Linked DNA regions of Homo sapiens: all the other regions are reported to be linked to region 1. Evidence: microRNA targets listed by miRTarBase, many of them from high-throughput screens and not tested one by one. Region 1 holds a microRNA gene; each other region holds the end of a gene's coding sequence. Distances are from middle to middle.

What was found. The annotated mature microRNA hsa-miR-3148 reads UGGAAAAAACUGGUGUGUGCUU and lies in region 1 at 2,626-2,647, opposite strand. An mRNA with a match to its seed (bases 2 to 7 or 8) in the 3' UTR can be bound and repressed. Matches are read on the target gene's strand: a 7mer-m8 pairs with bases 2 to 8, a 7mer-A1 pairs with bases 2 to 7 and ends in A, and an 8mer does both.
Region 2: miRTarBase lists DUSP4 as a target of hsa-miR-3148. Seed matches in the 3' UTR shown: 7mer-m8 at 1,823-1,829, 7mer-m8 at 2,969-2,975, 7mer-A1 at 3,767-3,773 and 7mer-m8 at 4,315-4,321.
Region 3: miRTarBase lists AMOTL1 as a target of hsa-miR-3148. Seed matches in the 3' UTR shown: 7mer-m8 at 2,860-2,866.
Region 4: the mRNA of UBE2D1 is a reported target of hsa-miR-3148. Seed matches in the 3' UTR shown: 7mer-m8 at 4,090-4,096, 7mer-m8 at 3,822-3,828 and 8mer at 3,767-3,774.
Region 5: the mRNA of ANXA5 is a reported target of hsa-miR-3148. Seed matches in the 3' UTR shown: 7mer-A1 at 761-767.
Region 6: the mRNA of ZNF101 is a reported target of hsa-miR-3148. Seed matches in the 3' UTR shown: 7mer-m8 at 2,463-2,469 and 8mer at 2,278-2,285.

What each region holds. Positions count from the first base shown.
Region 1 is chr8:29,954,693-29,960,166 of GRCh38, forward strand. It overlaps MIR3148 (microRNA 3148), which reads right to left and starts at 2,656; the gene lies at 2,580-2,656.
Region 2 is chr8:29,332,241-29,337,714 of GRCh38, reverse strand. DUSP4 (dual specificity phosphatase 4) reads left to right here. Exons shown (of 4, transcript NM_001394.7): 4 at 304-4,651. The coding sequence ends at 689. Among named protein-coding and RNA genes, the nearest start is that of DUSP4, 16 kb to the left of the region's middle.
Region 3 is chr11:94,869,487-94,874,960 of GRCh38, reverse strand. It overlaps AMOTL1 (angiomotin like 1), which reads right to left. Exons shown (of 13, transcript NM_130847.3): 13 at 1-4,272. The coding sequence ends at 4,166. Among named protein-coding and RNA genes, the nearest start is that of CWC15, 100 kb to the left of the region's middle.
Region 4 is chr10:58,367,886-58,373,337 of GRCh38, reverse strand. UBE2D1 (ubiquitin conjugating enzyme E2 D1) reads right to left here. Exons shown (of 7, transcript NM_003338.5): 6 at 5,322-5,415; 7 at 2,590-4,618. The coding sequence ends at 4,573. Among named protein-coding and RNA genes, the nearest start is that of TFAM, 15 kb to the left of the region's middle.
Region 5 is chr4:121,663,510-121,668,983 of GRCh38, reverse strand. ANXA5 (annexin A5) reads left to right here. Exons shown (of 13, transcript NM_001154.4): 13 at 457-1,038. The coding sequence ends at 516. Among named protein-coding and RNA genes, the nearest start is that of ANXA5, 31 kb to the left of the region's middle.
Region 6 is chr19:19,679,225-19,684,698 of GRCh38, reverse strand. ZNF101 (zinc finger protein 101) reads right to left here. Exons shown (of 4, transcript NM_033204.4): 4 at 1,193-5,474. The coding sequence ends at 4,399. Among named protein-coding and RNA genes, the nearest start is that of ZNF101, 13 kb to the right of the region's middle.

The DNA.
Region 1 (5,474 bases):
TGACTAGATTTTATGGGAATGTAGCTCTGTTTCACATTAGGGGATTGTCTTAGATAACATTTCACCAAGTTATTAAAAGGACTTCTGTGAGCAGAGAATTGCATGGTAAGATATGCTAGAGAAACTCTGGGTTATACAAGGTAAACCAGTCTCTCTTCTGCAGGAATTTCACTTTGCGGGACGTGGAGATTGCTGATGGGGTCTAAGAGTGCCCTGCTTCTGCCAAGCTTGTTTAAATAGCACTATTCCAAGGACATTCCATGGAACATAAGTGCACTAAATGCCAATGTGAGAAGCTGATCAAAGCCCTAATTTTTGAACTGTGTCTGCCCGTGAAGTCCTGGAGTTCCATGGCTGTGCCTCAAGGCTACTCAAGAAAGGGAGGGAGGAGACGAAAGTGGGGAGTCCCTGAGCCAACAGAGCCCTGAGCCTTTCATTCCTGTGGTTAGCCAGAGTCCTTTTACATCTATATTTATATACTTATTTAACATCTTTATATTTATATATTCATTTTATATCTATATTTATATGCTGGGTTTCCAGGTAAGATTTTGGTTATGTAAAAACTCAGGTCTTTTTAAAAAAAAAAAAAAGTGCAAACACCTCATCTAGAATCAGTGCATCCACACAGACATAAGTCTAAGGCAGCAGTTCTATGAAGACAGTTGTGGAACCAGGCTCACCCCTAATATCAGCATTGCCTTGGCCAAGAGTACAAATGGAGGCCCACATAGATTATACATCCAATGTATGAGTTATATATCAAGCTAGCATCACTAGTTAAAACATTGCTACTTCCACAAATATACCCAAATTCAGAATCCTTAGACTTCCAGAAATCTACTGAAAAATGGTCTCTTCCCACCTCCAGTTCCTACCACAAGCAGTCCAGTGTACAACCAAGAACGTAAGTTAAAGCTTCACCCGTGGTCCTTGAAACAGTAATGATTTGACCATCACTTGGCTCAAGTGGGCACACACAGTCAGCATACTTCACTCTAGAGAGGAAAGACCTCAGAAAGAGGGCCACAAGCCTTGGAAGTTTAATTGTGACCATTTGGGCAGAGAATTCTGAGGTCTCATGTATCAGGAATGTGTTCCAGAAGGAAGATATATGGGGTCCAGATGGTTTTATTCTCTTATCCCAAGGACTTCTTGCTTAATGGGGAGGGAAAGGAACAAAGAAGGATGAGAGTGGAGCTCTCTAAAGCATAGGGCTCAAAGCAAGAGGTCTTCTTGCCAGGATTTAGGGCAGTACTAGCGGGAATCCCAATTGCAAGACGTCAGGCAGAAAAGGAAAGATGAAGTTGTCCCATGGGGCCAGCTTGCAGAAACCCAATCATGACAGCGATTGCAAACACTGTGGGGCCAGTCTCGGTGCACCTGAGCTTTCTTTTTTCTGATGAGAAAACCCAAAGCGTTTTATTTAGCTTTCTGAGCTAATCTTATAAGAAAATAAAATTCCAGCCTCAATTGTTGAAATTGTTACTTAGGAGAAAACTAAATAGAGAAATTTGAGATTAAATTCATAAACAGGGATGTTAGTAACAAACCACTTTGTAGGAGTTAGTGAGAGACGATGAGTCATAAAGACAAATTTCAAGCAAACATTTACCCATTAAACAAGTGTCATTAGCATCCATATTATAGGTACTAGGGATATGCCAGTGAATAATTCAAAGTTCTTGCCCTTGAGGAACTTAATTATTTTAGGATCAGCACATATATGTGTGCTCACACACCACACCCACTTCACGCACACACTTGAATAGTGATAAATTCTACGATAAAATGTAAACAGAGGTGGGAGTGGTGAGTGAAGAACTCTCTGAAGCTGTGATACTTAAGCAGAGACATGAAAGAAATGAGCTTTGTACACCTCTAGGGGAAGAGCATTCCAGGCAGAAGTAACAGTAAGTGCAAAGTCCCTGGGGTAAGAATAAGCTTAGAATGATCAAAGAATAATGCAGGAAAGTATAGCTAGGTCAGGGTGTGTAAAGGGGAGACAGGTAGAAAATATGAGAGTGGAAAGGTTGGCATTGCCAGATTGTGCAATGTACCATGTGGATCTAGAATTCAAGACAAAGGTCTGGACTCCAGCTGAATATTCAGGAGTGACTAGCAAGAGGTGACAGTTAAAGCTCAAAGAAAAAAAAATTCACCCAAGAGTAAACAGAATAAAACTAATCAAATTTGAGAGGAGTCCTGGAAAGCATTGATAGTGAACATGGCAAGAGGAATCAACGATGAAGCCTGGAAATAAGTGATCCTTTCTGGAGGAATGAAGTGTACAGGAGGGTTAAATATTAAAGAGAAGTTAGTTCAACTTAAAACCACCAGAGGTCCATTGGCTTTGATGAGCAGGAAGTCACTGGGGGCCCCTGCCAAGGCAACTGCTATGCACTGGTGAGAGTAGAAGTCAAAACTCTACTTGAGTTTTGAAGTCAAAACCCTTGAGAAATGTGTTAGAAATGAGTGAGGAGATTCTGCAAATTTGGATTGGTTTTTTAAGAATCTTGGCTGTGTAGGAGGGAGAATGGATAGGGCAGCAATTTCAGGATGAATTGGGGAAAATACTGGAGTTAAGTTGGAAAAAACTGATGTATGCTTGTTGGCTACATCAATAAGCACACACCAGTTTTTTCCATCTTAACTCCAGAAAGGAGCTGAGAAAGAAAGAGACGTTTAAGGTGCATGGGAGAGGATGTTGCTGAAGCAGCCTTCTCCATTCCACACATTGCCTTCCTGTGGGAAGACTTCAATTAACATTGCTTACTCTATCTTATTTGATTGGCAAATTTAGGAAGAAAATGGCAATCTTGGCTCAAGTCTTCCCTTTGCCCTATCAGAAGTGAACCTGCCCACAGAAGGCACAAATTTGCCTCTGCTCCTCCATGATGTAATTTTGACCTGTAAAGGCTACCATACAGCACTGCTGAGAACTGACCAGTCCTGGGGTTCAGATCTCAGGTCCATTTGACAGAGACACCAAGCCACATCCTCCAACTCAGCTCTATCCATAATATTGCTGTGGCCTCTGTCTTTATTCTTTGATTCACTTCCTGAATTGTGCAGCACTGAGGTGGAAAAGACAGAAGGCTGCTTACTGGTCCTCAGTGGACTCAACATTGTGAATAATTGATTAATTAAGATATGAAGGAAAGGAAAGGAAATTTTACAAAGAAGGAGCAAACAGAAGAAATGACTTCCCATCCTCTCAAACCAAAAAGTAGGAGAGAAGCATGTGCATGGGAGACAGGAGTTGAAAGTGTTCACAGCTGATATTGTCTACTTTCTCTATGCAGCTGGAAACAAAGCTATTTGCTGAGAGTGAGAATGTTAAAGATTTGAAGCCTTGAAGAGGTTGAAACACTACTTGAGAGAATGAGAGAGAGGGGATAAAGGATAAGTAAATGTGAGGAAAGTCCCCTCATTGCAATATGTTCACAACTAAATTGCACTTGCCCCAAAAACAAAGCCAAGGGAAAAAAATGTAGAAAATGTAGGTAGAAATGGCTACATAATCAGCTTACAATTTCAACTACAATTGACAATCAGTATTCCTCCCAGGGTAGACTCTTGGGGAAAGAGCAAGGGCCTAGAAACCTGGATTTATATCCCAGAACTGCCAGTAATGAATACATTGGGTGAGCTGATGAAGAAGATAATTGCATGTGGTTGGAAGCTGCTGGCAGGGCCCTCATGACCCCTCCCTCCTGGTGTCCACTCCTTTGTGTAACTCCCTCCTCTTGTATGTGAGCTTGACCTAATGACTCACTTCTAAAGAACTGAGTCCAGCAAGAGTAATGGGATGTCACTTCTGGTATTAGGTTACAAAAAACTGACTTCTGTCTTTATCCACGCTCTCACTCTCTCCATGTTTGCTCTGATGAGGCAAGTTGAAGAGGTACACATGGTGGGGAACTGAGGGTGACCTCCACCTGACTACCAGCAAGGAACTGAAGCCCTCAATGCAACACCCATCCAGGAACTGCCCTGGGTCCATAAATACATGAGTGAGATTGAAAGAAGATCCTTCCCTGTTGAGTTTTCAGATCAGAATGCAGCCCTGGTCAGCACTTCTGTTGCCTTCTTATGAGGGATCCCAAAGCTGTGCCTGGATTCTGACCCACAGAAACTGTGAGCAAATAAATGTGTATTATTTGAAGCTGCTAAGTTTGGGGGCAATTTGTAATGCACAATAAATAATTCATGATGTGAAACTGTCTGTCATGCTGGTAGGAGCTGACTGGTGTTTCCGTGGCAGCTGAGAGATGGATCATTTAATGGGATATTGTATTAGTTCATTCTCACACTGCTATAAATAACTGCCCAAGACTGGGTAATTTATAAAGAAAAGAGATTTAATTGACTCACAGTTCTGCATGGCTGGGGAAACCTCAGGAAACTTATAATCGTGGCAGGAGGGAAAGCAGGCACATCTAACATGGTGACAGGCGAGAGGGAGCATGTGAAGGAGGAACCGTCAAACACTTATAAAACCATTATACCTCGTGAGAACTCACTATCATGAAAACAGCATGGGGGAGACGGCTTCCATGATCCAATCACCTCCCACAAGGTCCCTCCCTCAACATCTGGGGATTATGGGAATTACAATTCGAGACAAGATTTGGGTGGGGACAAAGAGCCAAACCATATCACATATCTTTCTGTCCTTCTCCCGATTCTGTCCAAAGAGAAGATGAAGGAAGAGGGATAGAGATAACTGCAATTTATATTTATCAAGTGCCTACTGTGTGCCAGCACTTTAATAAGTACATAATTTAAATTATCTCATTTATTCTTCACCAGAACTGTAAGATAAGAACTTCCATTCTCCTTTTACAAAAGAAGTTACAGTCTCATACAGTTGCTATGAGGATTAAATAACAAAATATGTGTAAAGCACCTGACACAGTACTTGGCAAATTATAGTTGCTAAATAAATCTTCCTCAGCTTCCCTTCCTTGTCCTTACAGAGAAACAGCCTGGTTGAAAAACAGAGAAATTAGAGGCTTGCATACTACCTCTACGATTATTGCAGTACTAGAAGAGAGAGTTGTAAGAATAAATGATGAGTCAAGATTCAAAATTAATCCTGACACTCAAGAGTTCTGGGCCAAAATTACTAAAATGAAATGAAACAGGGTTAATGTGAAGATTTACATTTAGGTTTGAAAAATTAATCAAGTAAGCTTAGGAGAAACTTGACTAGACAGTAACTTATATAAAACAGAGCTAGGGTCAACCACCCAGCTTAAAATGAGCCAAAAAGTGATAACTGGTTCCTAGAAAAATAATTATCTTGTTCTTGGTCTTCATTGATTCAAAAATAGTATGTCAATAGTGATGCAAGAAGAGAAGTATCCCTATGCACTCTGCACTGGTCAAAGCACAGCTGGAAAGTCAAAACTAGATGTGGGCTCCATGTTTTATAAGGAAACTGACAAACTAGACTTTGTCCAGAGTCA
Region 2 (5,474 bases), 620 kb from region 1:
CAAAGCGCTGGGATTACAGGAGTGAGCCACCACCCTGGACCCCACTGTTTTGTTTCTGCAAAGGGAAATCCTTGAACAGATAATAGGATTTAACCAGCTTCAGCATAGTGATTCGGGAAAATAGACCTCAGAATTGGGGGCATTCTAGAGACCTGCCTACATGGGTTTTCTTCCTCTCCAGTCCTTGGTCTAGCACGGCTAGTCCTTCCTTCAGAGCCCCCCGACCCCAGGGGCTGGCCGGTGCCCCTGGTCGGGGCTGGGGTCTGCAGAAACGTGCACTAACCTATTGAACCCTGTCCCCAGATGCCGTGAAGGACTGCCGTGGGCGCGTGCTGGTGCACTGCCAGGCGGGCATCTCGCGGTCGGCCACCATCTGCCTGGCCTACCTGATGATGAAGAAACGGGTGAGGCTGGAGGAGGCCTTCGAGTTCGTTAAGCAGCGCCGCAGCATCATCTCGCCCAACTTCAGCTTCATGGGGCAGCTGCTGCAGTTCGAGTCCCAGGTGCTGGCCACGTCCTGTGCTGCGGAGGCTGCTAGCCCCTCGGGACCCCTGCGGGAGCGGGGCAAGACCCCCGCCACCCCCACCTCGCAGTTCGTCTTCAGCTTTCCGGTCTCCGTGGGCGTGCACTCGGCCCCCAGCAGCCTGCCCTACCTGCACAGCCCCATCACCACCTCTCCCAGCTGTTAGAGCCGCCCTGGGGGCCCCAGAACCAGAGCTGGCTCCCAGCAAGGGTAGGACGGGCCGCATGCGGGCAGAAAGTTGGGACTGAGCAGCTGGGAGCAGGCGACCGAGCTCCTTCCCCATCATTTCTCCTTGGCCAACGACGAGGCCAGCCAGAATGGCAATAAGGACTCCGAATACATAATAAAAGCAAACAGAACACTCCAACTTAGAGCAATAACGGCTGCCGCAGCAGCCAGGGAAGACCTTGGTTTGGTTTATGTGTCAGTTTCACTTTTCCGATAGAAATTTCTTACCTCATTTTTTTAAGCAGTAAGGCTTGAAGTGATGAAACCCACAGATCCTAGCAAATGTGCCCAACCAGCTTTACTAAAGGGGGAGGAAGGGAGGGCAAAGGGATGAGAAGACAAGTTTCCCAGAAGTGCCTGGTTCTGTGTACTTGTCCCTTTGTTGTCGTTGTTGTAGTTAAAGGAATTTCATTTTTTAAAAGAAATCTTCGAAGGTGTGGTTTTCATTTCTCAGTCACCAACAGATGAATAATTATGCTTAATAATAAAGTATTTATTAAGACTTTCTTCAGAGTATGAAAGTACAAAAAGTCTAGTTACAGTGGATTTAGAATATATTTATGTTGATGTCAAACAGCTGAGCACCGTAGCATGCAGATGTCAAGGCAGTTAGGAAGTAAATGGTGTCTTGTAGATATGTGCAAGGTAGCATGATGAGCAACTTGAGTTTGTTGCCACTGAGAAGCAGGCGGGTTGGGTGGGAGGAGGAAGAAAGGGAAGAATTAGGTTTGAATTGCTTTTTAAAAAAAAAAGAAAAGAAAAAGACAGCATCTCACTATGTTGCCAAGGCTCATCTTGAGAAGCAGGCGGGTTGGGTGGGAGGAGGAAGAAAGGGAAGAATTAGGTTTGAATTGCTTTTTTAAAAAAAAAGAAAAGAAAAAAAAAGACAGCATCTCACTATGTTGCCAAGGCTCATCTCAAGCTCTTGGGCTCAAGAGATCCTCCCACCTCGGCCTCCTGAGTAGCTGGGACTGCAGGTGTGTGTCATCATGACCAATGTGAATTGCTTTTGAAGCTGGTTCATGGGCATGTAGGCCACCGAAGCAATTTTAGACCACAGTAAGTCAAGCTTTTTTCCCTCCGATGATCACTGGGTGGTTGCAGCATTTTTTGCATAAACCTGCCTAAGACTTGTCTATCGTCTGTGATCAATATGCCATATTACACTAAGGTGCTCCTGGAAAATTGGGTGCAGTTCAAATTTTCCTACAGCAAATCATTTGGCAAGGCCAGCCATTGGGGAAACCAGACAACTAGAGATAACCCTGAAATGAATCCTTTTGTAAATTGAAGCACCATCTTTTCTTTTTTTGCATAAATTGGAGGTTTTAATTTTAGGGCAGTTACCTGAAGTGAAATATACCAACAATTTCTTGTGTTCTTTAAATTCCTAGTTAGGTGAATATTTTTGAAGGTCCTCTTTTGAATAAAGAGGGGAATGGACACCACATTTCAGGTCTTCTCGAAGTGTGGAAGGGCAAGAGAGCATCAGTGAGCTGATGGTGGATTGCTTACATCGGATTCCATTGGTATGAATTTCCCAAACTGGAAATCAAAGCGCCAGGGTGGGGTTGGGGCTGACTGCTGGTGAGGGGGCTGGCCGCTGGCTCCCGTGACGTGCGTCATGGGCACGCAGGCGCCATTTTGAATCTATCGTCGGCACGTGGGTGCCATTTTGAATCCTTAGTTGGGCCTTTCTAAATGGAGAATGGCTTTGGAGGGAGACACGTTTTCTGTGGGGAGGGTTTGGGGGGGAGGGAGGAGGGAACAAGCTACATGCTATTTTGTTTGTAGTATTGTGGAACAGTCTTGTTATGGAGTGCCAGCTTAGAGGTTGTTGCAAACTTGTCTAGAAGTGAGAGCATGGTTTTTTTTAGCCCTTTGAGAGTCTACATCTAATGAACATTCTTGCTCACCCATAAATAACGTCAAGCCTCAATGTCACCGTCACGTTGGGATACTCTTTCTCATCTGGCATCCTAGACAGGACAAGGTTGGTTACCTTTCCTTCCATGAACCATGAACCTGTGACGGCATCATTCATCCTGACTTCACCAAGCTCCGCCTGTGGGTGAGGCCAGAGCTCCCACTGGCAATTTTTAGAAGAGCCAGAGGCTCCCTGCTTCCTCTAGAAATAACAGTTCAGGGTGAAGCATGGAGGGTTTCAGTTCCCAGACAATGGAACCATTTAGAGACAACACAGTTGGACATTTCCACTTTTTCCTTGATTCCTGGAAGTCCAGTGGGTTCTGCAGCTGAAAAAGCCCTGGGTCCCAGCAGCAGAGAGACAGGACAGAGGGGATGCTTGGGCGGGGAGGGACGGTAACCTGCAGAACAGATTCCATTTTTATAGAACGAGTACACGTTTGCTAAAACAGTCCTGCTTTCCCAGACTGGATTCCCACCACAGGGACAGTCGGAACTCAGGACTAGCTCCAGCGACATCTTTCCTCCGAATTCAAGCCTTCTATCACAATGTCAAAACAGCTATTTATAAAGCCATTTTCATTGTACTTGATAACAGCACGAGTCCCAAAACTTTTAGAAATAAAATAGGACATTGGCTTGATTGAAAAGAGGGACTTTTTAAAAATTGTTCTTTCGTCAGAAGCCTTTTGGATGACTTACAATAGCTCTGATGAAGATACCACCCCAGCGTCAGTCCAATAGGTCAGTGAGTTTCAACAGGCATCCATCCCTCCCATGAAGGGATTCTGGTGATGGGAAGTTTCTGTAATGACAGGAAAGCATTGACCCTCATTGATTGTCAACTTTGGTATTAGCCATGAAAGACAGGATGCTCATTGGGTGTTCTGTAGAGTGAGGAATGCTGCCTATTCCCTCCCAGAACGTCTGACCCAGGGGTGTGTGTTGAGGAGCCCTGGGGGAAATGGACCAAGTTTTCCCACAGAGCAGTATTAGGCTGAAGAGCAGGTGACTGGTAGGCCCCAGCTCCCATCATTCCCTCCCAAAGCCATTTTGTTCAGTTGCTCATCCACGCTGGATTCCAGAGAGTTTTCCAATTTGGGAAGCCATGAGAAAGGTTTTTAAATCTTGGGAAGATGGAGAGAGGGACATAGGATAGTTGACTCCAACATGACAGGAAGAGGCTGGAGATTGGGAATTGGCCATCAACCAAGCCTGTAGTAGTAAAGCCATGGTCCCGCATTGGAATTACTTGGGGAACTTATACAGTTCTGATACCCAGGCTCTCCTAGACCAGTTCAACCAATTCTAGGTGGGGGACTCAGGCATCAGTGTGTTTCGTAGCTCCCCGGGTGTTTTCCCTGTGCAGCCGAGCTTGGGAAACTGCCATGCTTTTTGGATGTCAAGGCGCTGTTGGAGGCTGGGTGTGACAGCACAGAGCCAGGTTGTCTTGTGGAAACCACAGCCACGGGTTTGCCACTGGCTCAGCATGGCCTCACTGCCAGTCCCAGCCTGGCTGAGGGACAAGATGGTTTCTCTTGGGAGTTCCTGAGTGGAGCACCCTTCCAGGCTTTTTGAAAGCCAGCTGATCTGTGGAGCCTTGTTAAGGGACTCAATACGGTGTTTGGATATTGATGTTTTTCCTTGAGACTGTCTTGTCCATCAATAAAGATGGAGGATGTCTCCTCTTTGAACCCCGCTTCCCCACCAGTACTCTCTCTCCCTTAGAGTTTATGAGTTATTCAAGGAGGAGACTTCTTAAAGACAGCAACGCAATTCTTGTAACTTGTGTAAATAGCCCCATCTTTCAGAGTGATACCATTTCTACATTTGATAATGCCTGTATTCCTGTAGGATGTATATAGTTTAGGGGATTTTTTTTTTGTTTGGTTTTGTTTTTTAGAAGTCAATATGTCTGGTTTTATTTATTGCTTGAAAAAGATCATTTGAAAAAAATAAATACATTTTCAACCACTTCTGGCTTGGTTAGACCTTTCCTTGAAAACTGTTCTGCTGTTATGACTTGGAAGGGGAGGAAAGAACCGCTGGGTCAGTTAATAATCTTGCCCACTTAATAGCGCAGTGGAGATGGAGTCCATTTGTTTACCTTCTTTTCTTTTCTTTTTTTTTCTTTTCTTCATGGAGCCCTTTTCTTTTCTTTCTTTCTTTCTTCTTTCTCTTTCCTTCTCTCTGTGTCTCTTTCCTTTTCTTCTTTTCTTTTCTTTTTTTCTTAGACAAGGTCTCACTGTGTCCCCCAGGCTGGAATGCAGTGGCACAATTGTAGCTCACGGCAACCTTGAACTCCTGGGCTCAAGCAATCCTCCTGCCTCAGCCTGCCGAGTAGCTGGGATTATGAGTGCACACCATCACACCAGACTAATTTTTTTTTGAGGTAGGGTCTCACTCTGTCGCCCAAACTGGAGTGCAGTGGCGCAATCTCGATTCACCACAACCTCTGCCTCCCAGGCTCAAGCAATTCTCCTGCCTCAGCCTCCTGAGTAGCTAGGATTATAGGCACGTGCCATTACTGCCTGGCTGATTTTTTGTTTTTGTTTTTTGTCTTTTTGAGACGGAGTTTTGCTCTTGTTGCCCAGACTGGAGTGCAATGGCACGATCTCGGCTCACTACAACCTCCACATCCCAGGTTCAAGTGATTTTCCTGCCTCAGCCTCTGGAATAGCTGGGATTACAGGCATGTACCACCACACCTGGCTAATTTTGTATTTTTAGTAGAAATGGGGTTTCTCCATGTTGGTCAGGCTGGTCTTCAACTCCTGACCTCAGGTGATCTGCCTGT
Region 3 (5,474 bases), not on the chromosome of region 1:
AGGAGTGCAAGATCATTCAGAGAACACAGAGAAGCATGCTCCACTTACTCCAGCGTGGACACTGGTTTTGAACCCTGGTTTTGAAAAACACATCTCTTTGCTCAGCATAACTCCCTGCAGTCAAAACATGAGCCCCCTGCCTCAAAAGCTTTTAATGCCCCAATCTATTATCCACTGCTTCTGAGGTCCGCAGCCTCACCTGAAGTCTGTGTCCCTAAGTCTCTGGGACTCAGGTCAATGGGGAGGAAGAATTTCCCATTCTCTCAGCACCTGGCATGAAGGTGCTACAGCCACTGCATCATGAGGGTGCGCACCCAGGTGAGAACAAACAAGAGTAATGACTGGCTGCTCTGCACGGGGCATTCTGAACACCTCCTTCCTGAGTAACAGAAGCACTGAATTCTCTGTTCCAGGTTCAGAACTAATTTGTTGCAACTGTTTTGGTATCCATGCCAAGCCTTGTGGAGTCAAACTCATACATGAGTTCCAAAGAGCAACCCCAGAGGACTGCACCCAGAAGGGCTCCACCACTGCCTGCTCTCCCAACGAAAGCCTGAGGAGGGCCAAGGCAGCCCCTGCCCTGCGTGCATGGTTAGAACATGCTGAACTCTGCAGTGTCACTGGCTGCCAGCCTCTGGGAGGCAGAGAAAATGCTGAGAAGAAAACGCTAAGAAAGGGTTCTGCACATGCTCTGAAAGTTTTGGAAGATAATGTGTTTTTCCTGGCAGCTTAGCTATATGGACCTGCAGACAGTAATAGTTCTCATGTACAGAGGCATCTAATTAGTGAAACTCTAGCTTCAGAGACCTGACTCCAACTTCTCCAGTTCCATATAATATCCTGGCAGCACACAGAAACTGCCAGACAACGCAGTCAAGGGTGAAGCAGAACAATGCTGGAATACCTTCCCGTGAAGCCAGGGCCTCTCCCCTTCATCCTGAGATAGGACCCTCAAGTTCTATAATCAGGCTCCACTGGGAAAGTTTGAAGTCCAGGTCTCTGGGAAGTGCAGAAATATTTTTTAGGTATAGTTTGGAGCTGTGCTTCTGGTGGAACACAATAATTTCCATCTATGCCTAGCATTTATAGGTGATTCTAGGAGTTCTGGGCTTAGTCCTATTTCTTAGGCTCTGAGATGTGTGATAGCTGTGTGTGTGTGTGTGTGTGTGTGTGTGTGTGTGTGTAGTTACACGTGCACACACACATCACAGACAGGCATAGAGACTGCCAAGATGCAGTGCCGCATGTTAGAGGCTGTACAGCCAGGGTCTATGCCCAGTGCCTCTCCAAACTTTGTTTTAAATCATCCTAGCTTCTCCTGGCTGTGAGATTTCAGGAAGGGACTTAACCTTTCTGAGCCCATTTCCTCATCAGTGAAATCAGAATAATAAACGCACCCCCTGTACTCCAGGTGGGTGGAGGACTAATTAAAAGGTATTTACCACACTGTTTGCATACAGTTGACACTAGAAAATATAGTTGCATTATTTTTCTGAAAATCTGTTTAAGATATTGTAAGCTGCCCAGAACTCAGAGCAGGTACTCAGTATATGGCCGGACTTCAGGAAAGCTCTAATGATGAAAGAATTTAGTGCCCTGGCTTGGCAGGAAATTTCCCATAGAAGAAGACATTTTAAAGCTATAGATCCTGTTCTTAAGGAAGAGTCTCAGTAGGTTAAGAGAAAAAAAATACGGTCAAAGTCCAAAATACAATGCCGTTGAAGCCCTGAAACATGGCGATGTGTCTGTTTACAATGAAAACACTTGGCAGCTCAGGGGGACCTCGAAGAGCAAGCAAGTCTGACACCTGATTGGGGCAATCAGGTGTCTGGGGCATGAAGACGAGGCTTCGGGAGAAACAGCTGGGTCTCTCACTCTAACCTATGTCTAAGGGAGGCAGCCCAAGTTTGGGGTGGCCCAGACCTGATGGTAGGGGCTGGCAGAGTTGATTTACCTTCCTATCTCTAGACATTTTCCTTTCTGGTCCATCCCCAACATAAACTGGGGTCAAAATGTCCTTAAGAGAGTTAGCTGTCATCTCCTAACTCATCTCCTATGAAATGTGGTGGGAACAGAGATTAGGAAGGGATGTCTATGCCCTCTCCCCACCCATGTCCATCCTCAACCCTTTCCCCCATGGATGAGGCCTCCTGTGCCCTCTTCCCACACCCTATGGCATGGGGTGAGCTCCATGCTCAGCCTCTCAGAGCTCCTCAGTTTTCCTGTCTGCACAACAGGTACTCCGATGCTCAGTGTGAGACTAGAGGAGGTGATGAGCAGGTGGCACAATGTGCAGTGCCTATGGCCAAGCAGAGCCCCAGAGGGCCAGTTCCCACTCCTCTGTCGTACTGGGTGGCACAGAGGCTGGCCAAAGCCACTGATTTCTTCCCTTCCCTCTCCAGCTTACACCTCTTGTCTTCCTTCTGTCACCTCAATTTGGGGAGGCTATAACTTCACCGGGGTTACACACCCAAGACCAGTCCATTTTAGGATCCAAGCAAAGTTTCCTGAGTAGCACTCTCTTGAGTGTTTCATTTAGAAGGTACTTGGAAGAGGTACCCCCCTTTCTTTCTTCCTCTAAGTAAGCATGAGCAAAGGGAACTGGGAAAACAGCGATCCAGCTGACCTGGAGGTACAAAAACATCAGGACCCTGTAGGAGCATCTCTCTGATGGCCCGATGAGCTTCTCCTCTTTTCTAATCCAGCATCTCTTAGATTTGTAAAGGAAGCCAGTGTCTGCAGAGCTGAATATGCAATGTCACAGCAGAGGTCTAATGGACCCACCACCTAACACACTCCTGCCTCTTTTCCGTGGCACTTCTGTCTCACTTTGAATAAACTGCCTCAAAACTGAAACCCGGAAAAACCTGACAACACTGTATATACAACTGGCCTGGTAGGTTACAAAAGAAGTTCACAACAGAGGCAACCTGGTGCCACGGAGGTCTGGATGCTGATCGAGAGCAAGCAGAGGCGTGCGCGGGGGAGGAAAGAGTGTGAATACGCTCATGAGCCTCAATACAAGAAGCTATACGGGAGGCTGGTGAGATTCTGGAAACCACTGAGACAACTGTCTGTAAATTGTCATCTGTTTCCTGGAGTGCTGTCCTAAGTCTTCCCCAAACAGAGCAATGGAATTTGGAAATGTCAAGCTCCTTGCAAGACAGCCGATGTGAAAGACAAAAAAGCAAGTGCCACGATCTTAATGCAATATGTCACAGGGACCCACGGAATCTCCTGCCTCCTCAAAGCTTGCTTAGTTCACAGTCAGAATGAGGTTCGCAGCTGCAACCCAGCTATGCAAAGGTGAAGCAGCCAGGAAGTCGGCACGTGGCTTTGTCCTACTGGTCACTATCAAACACAGTAGGAATGATGACAGTTCAGGTACTGGTCTCATAAATCCCATACCTAAGGAATTCTGCTATGTCTTATTAAAAAGAAAAAAATGAAGGAACAACAAAAAATTAAAGACTGTAAAGCAGAGACAGAGATGAACTCAGAAGTTAGGATGGATGGGGACCGAGATCATAATCTATCCTGTTTAGAAAATACTGCAGAATTCAGAAAAGCTAAGAAGCCCAATCATCTCTTGAAAATCCAAACCAAACAGGTAATTAGGTGAAGACCAACTTTCATATTCCCCTCGCCCTCGATGCTTCTTCTCACTGCCACACTCACACTCACGGGACACCCCATGGTTGGCACAGGTGACACTGCATTATGCCAAGACAGGCTCTCAAGATTTCCTGGAGGCTTTTCTTAAATCAAACATGCTAAGAGGCAAGGAGAATGGGGGTATTCCAAGGATGATCCACATTTGGGTTTATCTGTTTATAATCAGAGAATGGGGGTACACAGGCCCTCCCCAAGAGATACATTTTCTGTACAATGAAAAATTCAGTTTCCTATTTCTTAACTTTGTTTGCAAACCTACACGCCTCTTCTCTCTTCCACCATGTGTAATAAAATCCATCGCATTCTCTTCTATCTTCAGTCATGTAGTTTTTGTGTTTAACATTTATAAAATGTGTTCTTATGAGTCTGAAATCTTTATCAGTTCAAATCATTCCTGATTTCCCATCTACAACCTTCTAGGTCTTTCTTCTTTCTCTGCCGCTTTCCTTGTTTGTCAGTGTTCTGTACTGAAATTCCACAGGGATGGCAGTTAGATGAGGACTTCCATCATCTCTCCATCAGGGAACTCGGGCTTGTGCAGCAAGCTGCTGACCCGGCCTCTGTGGTCAGGCGACTTCCCATGGCCAGGAGAGTTCTCTGCCAAATAGAGGGGAAACATCAGCTGCCCATTCCTCAGGAGGGGCATAGGCTTTCCAGGTTCTCTAAAATGGACCCACGTCCGATACCACTGCACACCCAGGATTCTCACCACAGGGCATGTGAGATGATCCAGCCCACAGTGGGAACATGCAGAATGACTGGGCCAGGATTCAGACACAAATACAAACCAGGATGGTGAAGGGAGAGGATTCAGAAGGTGAGGATGACAGTGGGACTCTGTACAGGAGCCCCTCACACCCTCTACTCAAAACTATCAGGTGCATATTCTGAGCTAGGCACTTTTGACAGGTTCTCTGGCTTACTTGGAAAAGAATCACATCTTTAAAAAGTGACAACATTGTATTTACTTGTCTACTTTGAAAAATGAAATAAACAACCCCCTTGGAGGAAACAGTTAACTTAGGGCCCACAGAGCCTGCACCTCCTCAAAAGAATTCCTGAAAAGGGAGGTCCCCATGACCATGATTAGTCTCAGGTTTTAGGATGTGGAGAAGCCAATGGTAGGCTGGGTACTCTCTGGCTACTTAAAGCCTTACCCATTTAAGAACATTTGTGGGATCCCACTGACCATGGCCATGGTACTCCTTTGCTTAAGAGGAGTGCCTTAAGAGGCCAGGTCTATTCTTACCCAGGACACTTAGGGACTCACTGCAAAGATCACCTCTCCCAAGTTGTCTTCCCGTAAATATTTTAAACAGCTCGTTAGTCCTGGCCCAAGTGCTGTGCCACACGTTAACCGACTCTGCAGGTCAATCTACCTTCTCCTTCCATCACAATGTCCTCCACTGAGGCCAGAATCCCTGGTAAGTTAGAGCCCTGAAGGCAACAGTGAACTTGTGCCTTTGATGTACCTGGTGCCTAATTCTGGCTCCCAAACATACCAGAGGGCATTCAGCCCCTTAGAGGGTCTGTTGTCACTCCATCCGGGGAAAGGTTAGTTAAAAAGTATGCATTGCCAGGGTAGTCTCAAGCCGTGCACTCATTTCAAATAGTAATAAACTAGATGTGTCTATATGCATATTTATTCCCGTAATAAGAAAGGGCACACATATCCTAAGTGCATTAGAATAGCATCCCCATAGAGTAAGAGCTGATGGGTGCCCCTGCTTCCTCTCTAGCTCAACAAAAGATTCTCTTAGGCCAGACAGTTCCACAGTTTTCAGGGGCATCAAGGTGGG
Region 4 (5,452 bases), not on the chromosome of region 1:
AAAACAGTACTGTGAAAGAACAGAGTTGGAGGGCACACACTTCCCCATTTCAAAAGCTACTACAAAGTTACAGTAAGCAAAACAGTGTCATACTGGGATAAGGCATATTGATTGATGGAATGGAACTGAGAGACCAGAAATAAACCTCTATGGTCAGTTGGTTTCCAACAAGGGTACTAAGGCCATTCAAAGGGAAAGAATAGTTTTTTTAACAAATTATACAGGCCTGATCTTTAGAATGGCCTGTTTACAAGGTTTGCCCTTGGCTGACATCTAGAAACCTGGCTTCTGAAACCATCCCTGAGTGATAAGATGTGCTTGCTGTGCTAGCCTGACTAGACTTCTTAAATAAACAATGTGATTTATGGTGAACACCTGCTTTCCTTCTAGAAGACTAGAATTTTGGAAAACAAAGGATGCTTATGTGATTAGCCCCCAATAAAAACCCTGGACTTTGCGTTTCACACTAGCATCCTAGGGCAGAAACACTATGCCCATGCTACTACTAGAGGAAGGCTTCACTCTTGTGGCCCCTTCAGGGAGAGCACAGGGAGCCTGCACGTGGATTCCTCCAGACTGCCTGGTCTGTCTTTCCCCCTTACTGCCCCCACTGTGTATCCTTGCCAGGTGGCTGTAATAAATCTTAACTGTTGAGTATGATGGTATGTTGGGTCCTGTGCATTCTTCTATCCACACGTTGAATGTGTGGGACTGCCAAAACAAGTGTACCAAAAGTGCTAACACAAGTGGTATCACAACTGTTCCCACAATATGTATATTAAGAGTTTATACTGAAATATTTCATATGCAATTCATGGTGATCTTTTGCACTCAAGAGATCTTAACAGTTTTTCCTGCCAAGTAAATTATATGAGGAAAGCAGAGTTCAGACCTTCAGCATATGCCAGTATAATAAAAGCAACCTCCTCTGAGAGAAGAAAGGCACATCTCTCCCTCGACAACAGTAGGACCTAAGAGAGTGCTAACCAAGTTTTTAGAGAAATGTTTCTTATTACATAAAATGCCCCCCAATACTAATACTCTCAGGTGAATTTTCTCTCTTCCTATTAGTTCAGTTCATTTACAATTTAAAGCCACATTCTTATATAACAGGATAATGGGAGCAGAATTGTAAATGTAACAAAATACAAATAAGGATATAACATCTATTAGGCTGTCACCAGGACACTATCAGCCGTCTACAAATTTTCAGTTATCACCACTACTGAAAAAAACTAGGGAAAACATATTAATTACACAGTTTAAGAAGAGCTTACAGACACATTACTCAGTTCAAAAACAGAGAGAGTAGAAATGACTAGTTATCTACCTATAAGAACTTTTGTAAGTGAAATTAGATGAGACTCTACCTGCTGCCCTATTTGTGCAACACAACCATCAGAATAAAAGAGAAGCATTATAAGACCTTTCATAAATAATCTGCATTACATTTTACAGCTATTAAATTGTGATTAAGCCTCTGCTTTAAAGAAAAAAAAATTGTGAAAATCCTACTTTACAGCTGAAAAGTGATAAAACTAATTTTTTAAAAATCAGATTTTTTATTGTAGTAATAATCACTTAAAAGACTGAAACAAACAAAGATAAACAGTACTTTCAACAATCTGAATACAATGAAGCTCTGTTTTTATGGCCATGGCTAAAGCACTGATCACATTTTTCATGGCTGGTCCTAAGAAGATAGAGTAACAGGACTGATGATTCTACTGCAGAGCTCAAATTTTAAAGCATTATCAACTGGGCTGGGCTTTTGTACAGTTCAAAATGACTACCAATAAACAGACATGATATAGTTTCATGACCAATAATTTCTTTTAATTTGGGAGGAAAATTAATTTCCTTAATCTCTCCATTTAAAAAATACAGAACTGTGGGAGAGCAGGATCTTGACAAACATCAATGACTGAATCATTAGATAGATCACTGTGATAAATAAGAAAAATTTAAAACTGCAATGTATTATTTTTTTCTTATGAAAAGTAACTTTTGAACGTTAACTCTTAGAGTTGTCCTTGATATGCAGTTCATTTATAATTTTTAATTTTCCCTATCAGCGTTTAAAAGGGGTGAAACAGGGAAATAATGCAAAAATTAATAAATAAGGTTGACGGAGGCATATATGTAAAGCTTGTACTTCAGGAATTGTACGCTTTTGAGATAGTTGGAGGATGGTGGTGAGGCTGCCCCTTACAACCCATGTCACTGATGTGGGTAACTGCTGTATATGGCAGTTATAAGCGTTCAGAATCCAATTTGAACATGGTTTTCAACTATGCAACTTCAAGAAGTGGGATCCTAAATCCCCAAAAGACTACCTATTTCTCTCACTCCAAGGAAGTCCTTAAATTAATGCTTAATCCACAAAAGGCCCTGACTTTTATTCTACAGTTTTAAAAGGTAACTGATGTTCTCCTTGTTAGAGTTAAGCAAAAATAATATACCCAAAATGGTGTTCTGACCGATCATGACGCCACTATGGAACTCAAGGTTTTTAGCTAATTATGAGAACTTCTGCTTACTCCTCAAGTCCAGTACAATCCAGATGTAAGCAAAGGCAAACAAGTTAGGCAAGTTTCAAAAACTTTAATAAAGAAAAAAAAGAAGACACTTCCAAAAATAAATGCCACACAAATGAAAGTTGTTTTTTTTTTTTGTTTAAAGTGAAGATATTCAAGAAACAAAACCCTTTACTATCAAAATATACTAAATATTTAAATCTAGTGATGTTGAGTGTTCAAATTCAGGGCAAATGTAGCTTATAATAATATAGCTAAGTAGAATTTTTCATGATATGGCTGTTTTAAGACATCATTTTATAGATTTACTTTTTAAGCCTATATTTTCTTAAACATCCATTTCACAATTCATTTAATTATTTTACATTCATTTATAAAAACACATATTTTCTAACAATAGGTTATTTTGTGCTTTAATAATAATGAACCATGACAAAATACTCAAGTGATTTAAATGCTTTGCTAATGACTACACCCATCACATATTCTTACATACTTCTACAGCTACTGCAATAATCAGAAGGGCTACAACTGTTCTTAAAAATGACACTCACTCAAGGTTGACAAGCATGCTAAACATTAAAGAGATGTATTTTTCCCCAAGTTAAAACATTAAAACTTTCTAGTTTTCTTTAAAATCTATAAAGATAACCTGCTTATTTAAATCACTTTTCGATGGCAACTTATAAAAACAGAGGGAGGCATAATTTTAGAACTTCCTTTGTAACTTCTATAGTAAAAAAAAAAAAAAAGTTTTTCAAATTGTGATGGCATTAAATTCCATTTTAGAAATTCTAGATTTTAAAATGTTAAGAAATGTAATGTCAATTACATCAGGGTGGGGGCATTTTAATGAATTAATCTAGTGACTGTGCAGGTCTATAAAGACCTTTCTTTTGGATGGGTGATACTGCCTTATACTCATTTCAGTACTTTTAACAAATAATCCATTTAGATATAATCCAAGACAAACCCCAAATTACTCTAAATTCTCCTCTACAGCAAGGGATCAACATATATTATCTTATAGACTGACAATTTAGTAAAGAGATACTAACCTAAAACAATAAAATTTATATAACTAATGGTGACTAATGGCAAACAAAATAGATCTGATTTTCACAATTTGGATGTAATTTTCATGCAAAATTTTAGAGTTTTGATCCTTACTTATATTTTTATTTTTTTAAGTAATCAAGACAAATAGTAGAAAAAGCATTTTATTTATATGGAAAAAGCTACAGTAAGATCTGTAAAAGGTGTCAATATAATATTGCCTATACAGGAAAAAATTCAAATGTGAATAGCAACAAATAAAAGTTACACATCTTCCTACTTAGCAGTGCAATTAATTCACATTGCAATAAAGTTAAGTCAAGTATAACAAAATCAAAACAAGTGTTTCTCCATAATCAGTATGCTGAGAATTACAGTGTAAAGATCATTTCAGATTTAAGAAATCTGCAATCAATCTACAGAATATCCTAAGACAAGGGAGACACAGTTAATTCACTTAATTATCAGCCGTTGGGGTTTTTCAATACTGTTCACAGGAAAAAAGTAATGAGTTGACATACATGTAAATAGAATATATTTAGTCTATACAGTAAAAAAATACAAATTATAAAGTGAGCTAACAAAGAATGAAATCTGAATACAGATTTATAAAACTGACATCTTAGACAACACATACAGTATTTCTCATGTAAAAACATCTAGTTTCAGCAAAAAATAATTTGGTTGCTTTTCAGCTGCATTGTAGATCTTGTAAGCTGAAGATGCAGATGTCCAAGTATCTTAAAAACCATAATAAATGTCTTTCTCAATGCATACAAAATGATAAATGCTCTCATCACAGTCTTAAGGGTATTTTTGGAAGTTTGTTTTGTCTTGCTTCAGAAACACATTTAAAATGGGTAAAAATCAAATGGTTTCATGGTACAATGAAACAGTAAACAGTGCTCAATTTACTGCTAATGTTGAAAAAAACCTAGATTTTACAGTACTCTGGTATATATGAAAATGTTTTTGATTTTTACATTGCATATTTCTGAGTCCATTCTCTTGCATGTCTGTTGTATCTGTAGATACACAAAAAGGATATAGTAAAAACATACAAAATTAATATTTCAGAAGCATCTGTCTAATAAAACTATATATTCTACCTTCTTATACTTAATTGCAATAATCACACATATATCAATTACTGGGTCAATGTGACTTAGGTTCATGCAGAAATAAAACAGGAAAAATAATTTTTTAACTCATGGATTTCTCTGCAACCTATATGAAAATGTATCCAAATACACAAAAATCAAAATGCAGAAACCAGCTTCTAACAGAAATTTACAAAAGCCAATCCTGAAGGAGCATTATCTACAAATTGCAAATGAACCTACAGTACTAGCAAGATGAAGCAGCTTGAGAATTAGGTCAGTTTGGATGGGTACGAGAGAACTCCTCTTCCTTGGAGAAGATAAGCAATATATATTTAATACTTTCCAATGATTAAATTCTTTCATTTTTAATTTATCACCTAGAATATATACATCTATTTTTCAAATACAGAGTATATACTATTGAACAGTAAGTGGGAAGGAACAAGATTTATCATAAAAGGTCTAACAGAGTTCTCAAAGAAAGGTTTACTCCATTGGAAAAAGATAAACAATATACATATAACAACCATAATCAAATTGACTTAAAACATATTGATAATATTCGTGTTTTGGCATACTATATAGGAATGTATCCATACAGAAACTAAAATAAGTAAACACTTACTTTTCTTTGTCTGATTTATAGATTTGTGCAATATCTGGTACTAAGGGGTCATCTGGATTAGGATCACAAAGTAGAGAACATATGGACAATAAAACTAGATTTAAAAGAGAACATCACATTAGACAATAACC
Region 5 (5,474 bases), not on the chromosome of region 1:
TTGTGGTTTGGCTGGCCCAAAGGACACTAGAGAGTTTACCCATGCACTTTTAGCTTGAAACATTAATTTATCATGCATGTCTGCATGTGAGACAAGCAGATGCAAAGCATGTTCTGCCCTTCTGTCTCGGAGGGAGAGCCATGACAGCCCTGCAGCCCCAGCACTGCCCGTGTTAGCTGATATATACCAAGTGATAGAAACTATTCTGTCTAGAAGGCTTGATTTGACTATAGTTGTTAAAGTTGCCTGATTCTTTGTGTTACCAGAGGGAATACTGAGTGTCTGAGGTTACATTGGTAGGAAACTCCCTGCATAACATTCCTGATGTGAAAGTCACAGAGATTACCCACTTGGGAGAAGAGTCTTATGAATAAAATTTGTTGCCAGTTATTTAGTTTTAAAATTTTCTATGGCTTCTGTGAGTCATGGAGGTTAATGGAATACATTTGGTTTCAGGGAGATACATCTGGGGACTATAAGAAAGCTCTTCTGCTGCTCTGTGGAGAAGATGACTAACGTGTCACGGGGAAGAGCTCCCTGCTGTGTGCCTGCACCACCCCACTGCCTTCCTTCAGCACCTTTAGCTGCATTTGTATGCCAGTGCTTAACACATTGCCTTATTCATACTAGCATGCTCATGACCAACACATACACGTCATAGAAGAAAATAGTGGTGCTTCTTTCTGATCTCTAGTGGAGATCTCTTTGACTGCTGTAGTACTAAAGTGTACTTAATGTTACTAAGTTTAATGCCTGGCCATTTTCCATTTATATATATTTTTTAAGAGGCTAGAGTGCTTTTAGCCTTTTTTAAAAACTCCATTTATATTACATTTGTAACCATGATACTTTAATCAGAAGCTTAGCCTTGAAATTGTGAACTCTTGGAAATGTTATTAGTGAAGTTCGCAACTAAACTAAACCTGTAAAATTATGATGATTGTATTCAAAAGATTAATGAAAAATAAACATTTCTGTCCCCCTGAATTATGTGTACATGTGTGTTTAGATTTATTATTAAATTTATTTAACAATGTTCTCTCTTTTTAAGCTAATAATTGACAGTGGTGTTAGTTGAGAACTGAATTTACAGTTGGTCTTTTGGGCAGTAAGAAATGCAAACCATAGACTGAATTTCCTTCATAGTACATGATTTTTCCTAAATATAGGAAAGATCGAAGGGGTCTCTGGTTTATTTGCACCATGTTTATTTAGGCATCTATTAAAGCAATGCTTGTGGTGCTACTTGCTTAGTAGAAAAGCTAATTATAAAACTTAATGCAAAAATTCAGAGTACTACCTTTCTCTTTCCTCTTTCCTATTGTGAACTTGCCTCCCATTTACTGTCTGTCACTTTCTTTGAGATAAATAAAAAAGACAATAATTTTTTCTAGAAAGAAGCAGTTTATCGATCTCTTCTAATATTTGCCTTTCAGTTTTCTGTTTTCAAACTGCCATTTCAGTTGGTGTCATTTTTCTTTTTGTACTTATGCCCTTCTGGTTGCATTTTTTTTTTTAAAGCCAAGTAATTGCCATTAATAAGCTTTTTTAAATAAAATGAACTAATCTTCCTTTGAAAACTTTAAAATAGTGATAATATTCTTTTCACCACCGTTGATGCTCATCAGAATAACCAGGGGAATCTTAAAAACTGTATGTGTACACATGATATTGGATTTTTGTTTTTTTGAGAGGCCTCATAGGCAATTTTAATGCAGAGGCAAGTTGAGAATCAGTTGGTTATACTTTTCACATAGAAGATGATATGTTTCAAAGAGCTCTGTTCTGTTATTGAAAATAGGCCACTGGCTTTAAATATAAGCCCTGGATTATTTATTAGTAACACTTTAAGAGAAATCCACCTGTGAGCTTTAACATTTGCTATATTTTCTGTAGGTCTGGATCTGAAAATTTATTAATAAAAGAATTAAAAAAATAAAAATCCACAAAAAACATTTGCTATATTTATTTACTTAGTGACCTTCTTCCCAGCTCTCTGTGAGTTTATTGGGAGACAAATTTTTGTGGAACTAGATAAGCTGATTGTAAACATCATGCAAAAAAGGAAGGATTGTTAGTAAAACTTGAGAGTAGTGAGGGAGCACTATTCTTCTATTCTTTACACAGATTAGACTACATATCCTGAATAGCTGAAACAGTATAATACTGTGGCATGAATAGACAGACAAAACAGCAAGTTCAGATATGGAAACAAATCATTTGGAAATTTAGTATATGTTAAAGGTAGGTCTTAATTTGCTGGGTAAAGATAGCATTTTTTTCTAACAAATGGTGTGAAGACAGTTGGGGAGCCATCTAGGAAAATATAAGGCTTTTTCTATACCTCATGTATCAGGTAACTCTCAAAATGAAACATTTAAACTTAAAAATAAAATCATAAACATATGAGAAAGAAGCATGGAGGGATTTCATCATACCTGCACCTTCTAGATTCTCTGGGAAGCAGATGCTGAGATGGAGTTAGGGATGCAACAGGTTTATTGAATGGAACAGGTAGAAGGCAGGATTGGGCAAGGGGTGTCATCAGATTGCACTGCAGACCTGACCAAATCTTTGCCAGTATCATGTGGAACTCTGAGGCAAAGAGTTCCTGCAAAGAGCCCTTTGTGAGACAGAAGTGCCTGGGCCCTGTGCCACCACCTTCCTTACTCAATTATTGGCTAAGTGTCTTCTGGAGAAGAGCTTGGCTTGGCTGGAAAGCTGAGGCAAAACCTGAAGGAGATTAAGAGTTGGAAGGCTGTCAGCAACCCACATTTTCACAGCTTGGAACTGAGTATTTTCTTGAAAGGGGATCTAAGTGGTGCAGTTCCATGTCTGCCATAATGATCTTGAAGTGTGAGGCCTTTCTATCACCCAAAATCCAGAAGCCATAGGAGAAAAGATGATTATTTTTGATTTCCTAAAAATCAAAAACTACATGGAAGGCAGGCCAGGCACAGTGGCTCATGCCTGTAATTCCAGCACTTTGGGAGGCCAAGGTGGGTGGATTGCTTGAGCACAGGAGTTTGAGACCAGCATGGACAACATGGCAAAACCCCATTTTTATTTTTTAAAAAACCAAACAAAAAATTAGCTGGATGTGGTGGCACACGTCTCTGGTCTCAGCTATTTGGGAGACTGAGGTGAGAGAATTGTTTGAGCACAGGAGCACAAGGCTGCAGAGAGCCTGAAGGAGGGAAGGAGGAAAGGAAGGAAGGAAGGGAGGGAGGGAGGAAGGGAGGAAGGGAAGACGGGAGGGAGGGAGGAAAGGAAGGAAGGGAGGGAGGAAGGGAGGAAGGGAAGACGGGAGGGAGGGAGGGAGGGAGGGAAAATCACCACCAAGACAATTTAAATGACAAACGGGAAAACATTTACAGTTCATACAACAAAGATCTAATCTCCTTTGTACATGCTGACACACCTTGTTTTATTGTACTTTGCAAACAATTAAAAAAAAATTTTTTTAAACAAATCATAAGTTTGTGGCAACCCTGCATTGAGTCAGTGTATCAGCACCATTTTTCCAATAGCATGTGCTCACTCTTTATCTGTTTGTCACATTTTGGTAATCCTTGCAATATTTTAAGTTTTCATTATTATGTATCTTATGGTGATCTGTGATCAGTGATCTTCAATGTTACTGTCATAATTAAGGTGCTATGAACCATGCCCATTTAAGACAGTGGGCTTAATTGATAAATATGTGAGTTCTGACTGCTCCACCGACTGGCTGTTCCCTCATCTCTCTCTCTCTTTCTCTCTCTCTCTCTGATCCTTTCTATTCCCTGAGACAAAACAATATTGAAATTAGGCCAATTAATAACCCTGCAATGGCCTCTGAGTGTTCAAATGAAAGGAAGAGACTCACACATCTCTTATTTTAAATGAAAAGTTCAAAGTGATTCAGCTTAGTGAGTAAGGCAGGTCAAAAGCCAAGGCAGGCTGAAAGCTAGGCTACTGGTGCCAAACAGCCAAATTGAGAATAAATGTAAATTTTAATTTTCTTTCTTGAAGAAAATTAAAAGTGCTACTCCATTGAACACATGAATGATTAAGACAGTGAAATAGCCGTATTGCTGATATAGAGAAAGTTTGAGTAGTCTGGTTAGAAGATCAAACCAGCCACAACATTCCCTTAAGTCAAAGCCCAATCCAGAGCAAGATCCTAATTTTCAATTCCATGAAGGCTGAGAGGTGAGGAAGCTGCAGAAGAAAAGTAAGTGAGCAGTTTTGGTTCATGCGGCTTAAGGAAAGAAGCCGTCTCTGTAATAGAAAAGTGCAAATTGAAACAGCAAGTGCTGATGCAGAAGTTGCAGCTAGTTCTCCAGATGACCTAGCTAAGATAATTGATAAAGGAGGCTACACTAAACCACAGATTTTTAGTGTAAACAAACAGCCTTCTATTAGAAGATGCAATTTATAGCTAGAGAGGATACATCAATGCCTGGCTAAAGCTTCAAAGAACAGGCTGACTCTTTAGGGGCCAATGCAGCTGGTGATGTTAAGCTGAAGCCAGTGCTCATTTACCATTCCCTGGATCCTAGGGCCCTTAAAAATCATGCTAAATCTACTCTGCCTGCATTCTATAAATGGTACAACAATGGATGATAGCACATCTGTTTATAGCATGGTTTGCTGTTATTTTAAGCCCACTTTTGAGACCTGCTCAGAAAAAAAATCCTTTTCAAAATATTACTGTACATTGACAATACACCTCATCACTTAAGAGCTCTGATGGAGATTTAGGAGGAGCTGAATGTTGTTTTCATGCCTGCTAACACAACATATATTCTGCACTCCATAGATCAAGGAGTAATTTCAACCTTTAAGTCTTATTAAAAAATGTACTTTATAAGGGCATAGCTGCCATAGATAGTGATTCTTTTGATGGATCTGGGCAAAGTAAATAGAAAACATTCTGGAAAAGATTCACCATTTTAGATGCCATTGATATGGTTTGGCTTTGTGTTCCCACCCAAATCTCATGTTGAATTATGATTCTGAGTGCTGAGTGGTGTGAAGTAACTGGATCACTGGGGTGGTTTCTAATGGTTTAGTATCATCCCCTAGTGTTGTCTCATAATAGAGTTCTCACAAGATCTGGTTGTTTGCAAGTGTGTAGCACCTCTCCCGTCACTCTCTCTTCCTCCTGCTCCACCATGGTAAGATGTACTTGCTTCTCCTTTGCCTTCTGCCATGATTGTAAGTTTCCTGAGGCCTCCCAGCCATGCTTCATGTACAGCCTGTAGAACTGTGGAATCAATTCAATTTCTTTTCATAAATTACCCAGTCTTAGGCATTTCTTTATAGCAGTGTGGGAACAGATTAATACAGCCATTAAGAATATTCATGATTCATGGGCAGAGGTAAAAATATCAGCATTACCAGGAGTTTGGAAGGAATTCATTCTAAACCTCATGGATGACTTTCAGGGGCCTAGGACTTCAGTGGACGAAGTAATTGCAGACATGGTG
Region 6 (5,474 bases), not on the chromosome of region 1:
CATGAGTCTCATGTGAGACTTTTGACTTTTGAGTTAATGCTGGAATGAGTTAAGACTCTGGGTGACTATTGAGAAGGGATTATTGTATTCTGCAATATGAGAATATGAGATTTGGAGGGATAGGGGTGGAATTATATGACTTAGATGTGTCCTCTCCAAATCTCTTGTTGAAATGTGGTCCCCAGGCTGGGCACAGTGGCTCACACCTGTAATCCCAACACTTTGGAAGGCCAAGGCGGGCGGATCACGAGGTCAGGAGATCGAGACCAGGCTGACCAACATGGTGAAAACCTATCTCTACTAAAAATACAAAAATTAGCTGGGCGTAGTGGTGTGCCTGTAATCCCAGCTACTTGGGAGGCTGAGACAGGAGACTCACTTGAACCCAGGAGGTGGAGGTTGCAGTGAGCCAAGATCGCGCCATTGTACTCCAGCATCGGCGACAGAGCAAACCTCCATCTCAAAAAAAAAAAAAAAAAAAAAAAAAAAAAGAAATGTGATCCCCAGTGTTGGCTGTTGGGCCTAGTGGGAAGTATCATACCATTGGGGCTGATCCGTCATGAATGGCCTAGCACCATCCCTTAGGGATGAGTGAATGCTCACTCAAGAGAGTCTGAGACCTCCCCCTCTCTCTCCCTTGCTCCTACTCTTGCCTTGTGACATACCTACTCCCACTTCACCTTCTGCCAAGAGTAAGAGCTCTGAGGCCTCACCAGAAACCCAGCAGATGTGATACCATGCTTCCTCTATAACCTGCAGAATCGTGAGCCAATGAAATCTCTACTTTACAAATTACCCAGTGTCAGGCATTGCTTTACAGCAATGCAAAACTGACTAAACACCACAGGATCTTTGGGAGGCTGAGGCGGGCAGATCACCTGAGGTCAGGAGTTCGAGACCAGCCTGGCCAACATGGTGAAACCTGACCTGTACTAAAAATACAAAAAATTAGCCAGTCGTGGTGGAGGGCACCTGTAATCCCAGCTACTTGGGAGGCTGAGGCAGGAGAATCACTTGAACCTGGGAGGCGGAGGTTGCAGTGAGCCAAGATTGTGCCACTGCACTCCAGCCTGGGCAAGAAGTGTGAAACTTTGTTTCCAAAAAAAAAAAAAGGGGATCATCCCAATAGATGCAAAAAAGTTCAATACAACTTGATGAAACACTCAATAAATAATGAACAGAAGGGAACTTCTTCAAACTGAATTAAGGCATTTATTAAAAACCTGCAGCTAACATCATACTTGATCAGGAGACTAAATGCTTTCTCCATCAGATTAGATAAAAATATTGTCATATCACAGGGCTATCCTTAAGTCAAAATGAACCATCCAAATAATACTCAGAAATAACGACAAAGAGTAAAGAGCAAAAAATGGGAATGATTCACATGAGACAATACTCTATGGTAAACTTTACATACTGATAAATTGATACCAAGTCCTTATTAGCAAAGAAAATGGAGTCAACATTGTATCATGCCAAAAAGAGTAGTTTTCCCCATAATAAAGGAAAGTGGAATACATATGATGGGTGAGGAATATGCAGAATCTGCCACATAACACCAGTAAGAAATCTCTATTAATAAAGACTCATGGGCCGGTCGCAGTGGCTCACTCCTGTAATCTCAGCACTTTGGGAGGCCAAGGTGGGGTGGATCACAAGGTCAGGAAATCAAGACCATCCTGGCCAGTACAATGAAACCCCGTCTCTACTAAAATACAAAAAATTAGCCAGGCATGTCGGCACGCGCCTGTAGGAGGCTAAGGCAGGGGGATTACTTGAACCCGGGAGGTGGAGGTTGCAGTGAGCCAAGATCGCGCCACTACACTTCAGCCTGGCGACAGAGCAAGACTCAGTCTCAAAAACAAAAGAAAACAAACAAAAATAGACTCATTTTGTAATGGCCCATTCATCACAGAACAATTAAACACTACATAAAAATTAAACCTGCTTACATATTAGAAATAAATTTCACTTCACCCACAGATCCAACACTTTAAAATGGATAGAAAAAAATGAAAACCAAAATGGATAGAAAAAAATTTTATTAACTAACTTAGGATAAAAACACTTCCTATTAAACCTCAGGTACCACTGCTTAAAGAGTATCATTCTCACATTTCCTTGCAAAAGTGGAAACCCATAATCCAAAGATCCTTTTTAAGAATGAGTCACAGGGGCCGGGCAAGGTGTCTCATGCCTATAATCTCAGCACTTTGCGAGGCTGAAGAGGATGGATTCCTTGAGGTCAGGAGTTCAAGACCAGCCTGGCCAATGTGGAAAAACCCTGTTTCTACAAAAATACCAAAAATTTAGCTGGGCATGGTGGCGTGCGCCTGTAATCCCAGATGCTTCGGAGACTGAAGCAGGAGAATTGCTTGAACCCAGAAGTCAGAGGTTACAGTGAGTCAAGATCGCGCCACTGCACTCTAGCCTGGGCAACAGAGTGAGACTGTGTCTCGGGAAAAAAAAAAAAGGCCAGGCGCGGTGGCTCACACCTGTAATCTCAGCACTTTGGGAGGCCAAGGAGGGCGGATCACAAGGTCAGGAGTCTGAGACCAGCCTGAACCACATGGTGAAGCCCCGTCTCTACTAAAAATACAAAAAAATTAGCCAGGCGTGGTGGCATGTGCTTATAATCCCAGTTACTCAGGAGGCTGAGGCAGGAAAATTGCTCACACCCAGGAGGCGGAGGTTGCAGTGAGCCGAGATTGTGCCACTGCACTCCAGCCTGGGCGACAGGGCAAAACTCCATCTCAAAAAAAAAAAAAAAAAAGAAAGAAAAAAGAATGAGCCACTGATAAATGCTATATATTTATAACTTTGTGTAATAACTCATTCATGATTAAGTTTTTGAGCATTATATAATAATTAATTTGCATCAGGCTTTCAAAATTACTTACGTTTATAGGATTTCTTTCGAGTGGATGTTCTCACATGATTAATTTTTTTAGACAGGGTCTCACTGTTGCCCAGGCTGGAGTCCAGTGGCGCAATCTCCACTCACTGCAACCTCGACCTCCCAAACTCAAGCAATCCTCCCACCTCAGCTTCCTGAGTAGCTGGGACTACAGGCGAACACCATCATCCCTGGCTAACTTTTCTATTTTTTGTATACATGGGATTTCTCCAGGTTGCCAGGCTGGTCTTGAATACCTGGCCTCAAGCAATCTACCCACCCCAGCCTCCCAAAATGCTGGGATTACAGGGGAGAGCCACTGTGCACAGCCCATGTGAATTTTAATTATTGTTAAAATGGAAGTTTCCTGTATTTTCCAAACTACTAACGTTTCCATCCAGTGTGTATTCTTCGATTCATACCATCCATCTCCAGTGTGCACTGACACGTGTCTTTGAATGGAGATGAGAGCAATGAGAGTTTCCCCATATTCTGTACATTTCTACAATTTTTCTCCAGTATGAGTCCTTTTATGGCTCTGAATAGAACTGGAATATCTGAGGTCTTTGGATTTTTTTCCAGTTAGTCTTTTCATATCTTTGGAAACTGAATGTATTCCCATATTCCTTACATTCATAGGATTTCTCTCCTGTATAAATGAGAATTATTTCTTTCCCTTTTTTTCTGAGACAGAGTGTCACCGTCATCCAGGCTGGAGTGTAGTGGCACGATCTCAGCTCACTGCAGCCTCAACCTCCCAGGCTCAAGGGTTCCTCCCACCTCAGCTTTCTGAGCAGCTAGAACTACAGGGATGCACCACCTCACCCAGTTAATTTTTTTTTTCTTTGGAGATATGGGGCCTTCTTTTTTTTGTTTGTTTTGAGACGAAGTCTCGCTCTGTCACCAGGCTGGAGTGCAGCGGCGCGATCTCGGCTCACTGCAACCTCCAAGTCCCTGGTTCAAGCAATTCTCCTGCCTCAGCCTCCCGAGTAGCTGGGACTACAGGCACACACCACCACGCCTGGCTAATTTTTGTATTTTTAGTAGAGACGGGGTTTCACCATGTTGGCCAAGATAGTCTCCATCTCTGGACCTCGTGATCCACCCACCTCGGCTTCCCAAAGTGCTGGTTTTACAGGCATGAGCCACCACGTGATATGGGGCTTTTTTGTGTGTGTGTGTGATGGAGTCTCACTTTTGTCGCCCAGGCTGGAGTGCAATGGCGTGATCTCGGCTCACTGCAACCTCCACCTCCCAGGTTCAAGCGATTCTCCTGCCTCGGCCTCCCGAGTAGCTGAGATTACAGGTGCCCACCACCATGCCCAGTTAATTTTTTTGTATTTTTAGTAGAGACGGGGTTTCACCATGTTGGCCAGGCTAGTCTTGAACTCCTGACCTCAGGTGATCCACCCGCCTCAGCCTCCCAAAGTGCTGGGATTACAAGCGTGAGCCACCGTACCCAGCCGATATGGGGCCTTCTTATGTTGCCCAGGCTGGTCTCAAACTCCTGGGCTCAGGTGATCCCCCTGCCTCCTGCCAAAGCACTGGCTACGCCCGGCCAAATGAGTTCTTTCATGAAGTCTAAGGTAATTTGAAAAAGTAAAGACTTTACCACACTGTTTACAATCAAAGGGTTTTTCTCCAGTGTGAGTCATTTCATGTCTTCGGAGGGAACTGCACCACCCAAAGGCTTTACCACACCTTGTACATTCATATGGCTTTTCTCCACTATGAGTTTTTTTATGTCTTCGAAAACAACTGGGATAATTGAAGGTTTTACCACATTTATTACATTCATAAGGTCTTTCTCCAGTGTGAGCTCTTTCATGTGCTTGAAGGGACGTGGGACATCTAAAGACTTTGGCACATTTTTGACATTCGTAGAGTTTTCCTCCACTATGAGTTCTTTCATGTCTGTGAAGGGAACTGGAACAACTGAGTTTTTTCCCACATTCCTGACATTGGTGGGATTTCTCCAGCGCGTGAGATCTGATTTCATGTGTCCGAAGGTAACCTGCGGAAATGAAGGCTTTACCACATTGTTTACATTTGTAAGGTTTTTCTCCAGTGTGAGTTCTAACATGAATTTGAAATAAACTGGGATAATCGATAGGTTTTCCACAGTATTTACATTCATAGCGTTTTTCTCCAGTATGCATTTTTCCATGTTTTCGAAAGAAACTGGAAACTGTGAAGGCTCTCACTATTTCCCTACATTTATAGGACCTCTTTCCAGTGTGAGTTCTTTGATGGATTTGAAATAAATTGGGAGAATTAAAGGCTTTCCCGCACACCTTGCATTCATAAGGTCTCTTTCGAGTTGGTGTTACTGTGCGCCGTGCACCACTACTGGGGGAAATGGAGGCTTTCCCATGTTGTTTCTGTTTACGGGGCGTCTCTCTCCATTCCCCACCACACTCAGATCGTTTGTGTCCAGCATGAGCTCTCATGTGCCTGTCCAGGAATGAATGACGGAGGAAGACTTTCCCACACACGCTGCATTTGCATGGTTTCACTCCAGTTTGACTTTTCTTGTTCAGGTGACAATCAGGAATCTGGCTGAAAGTTTCTCTGT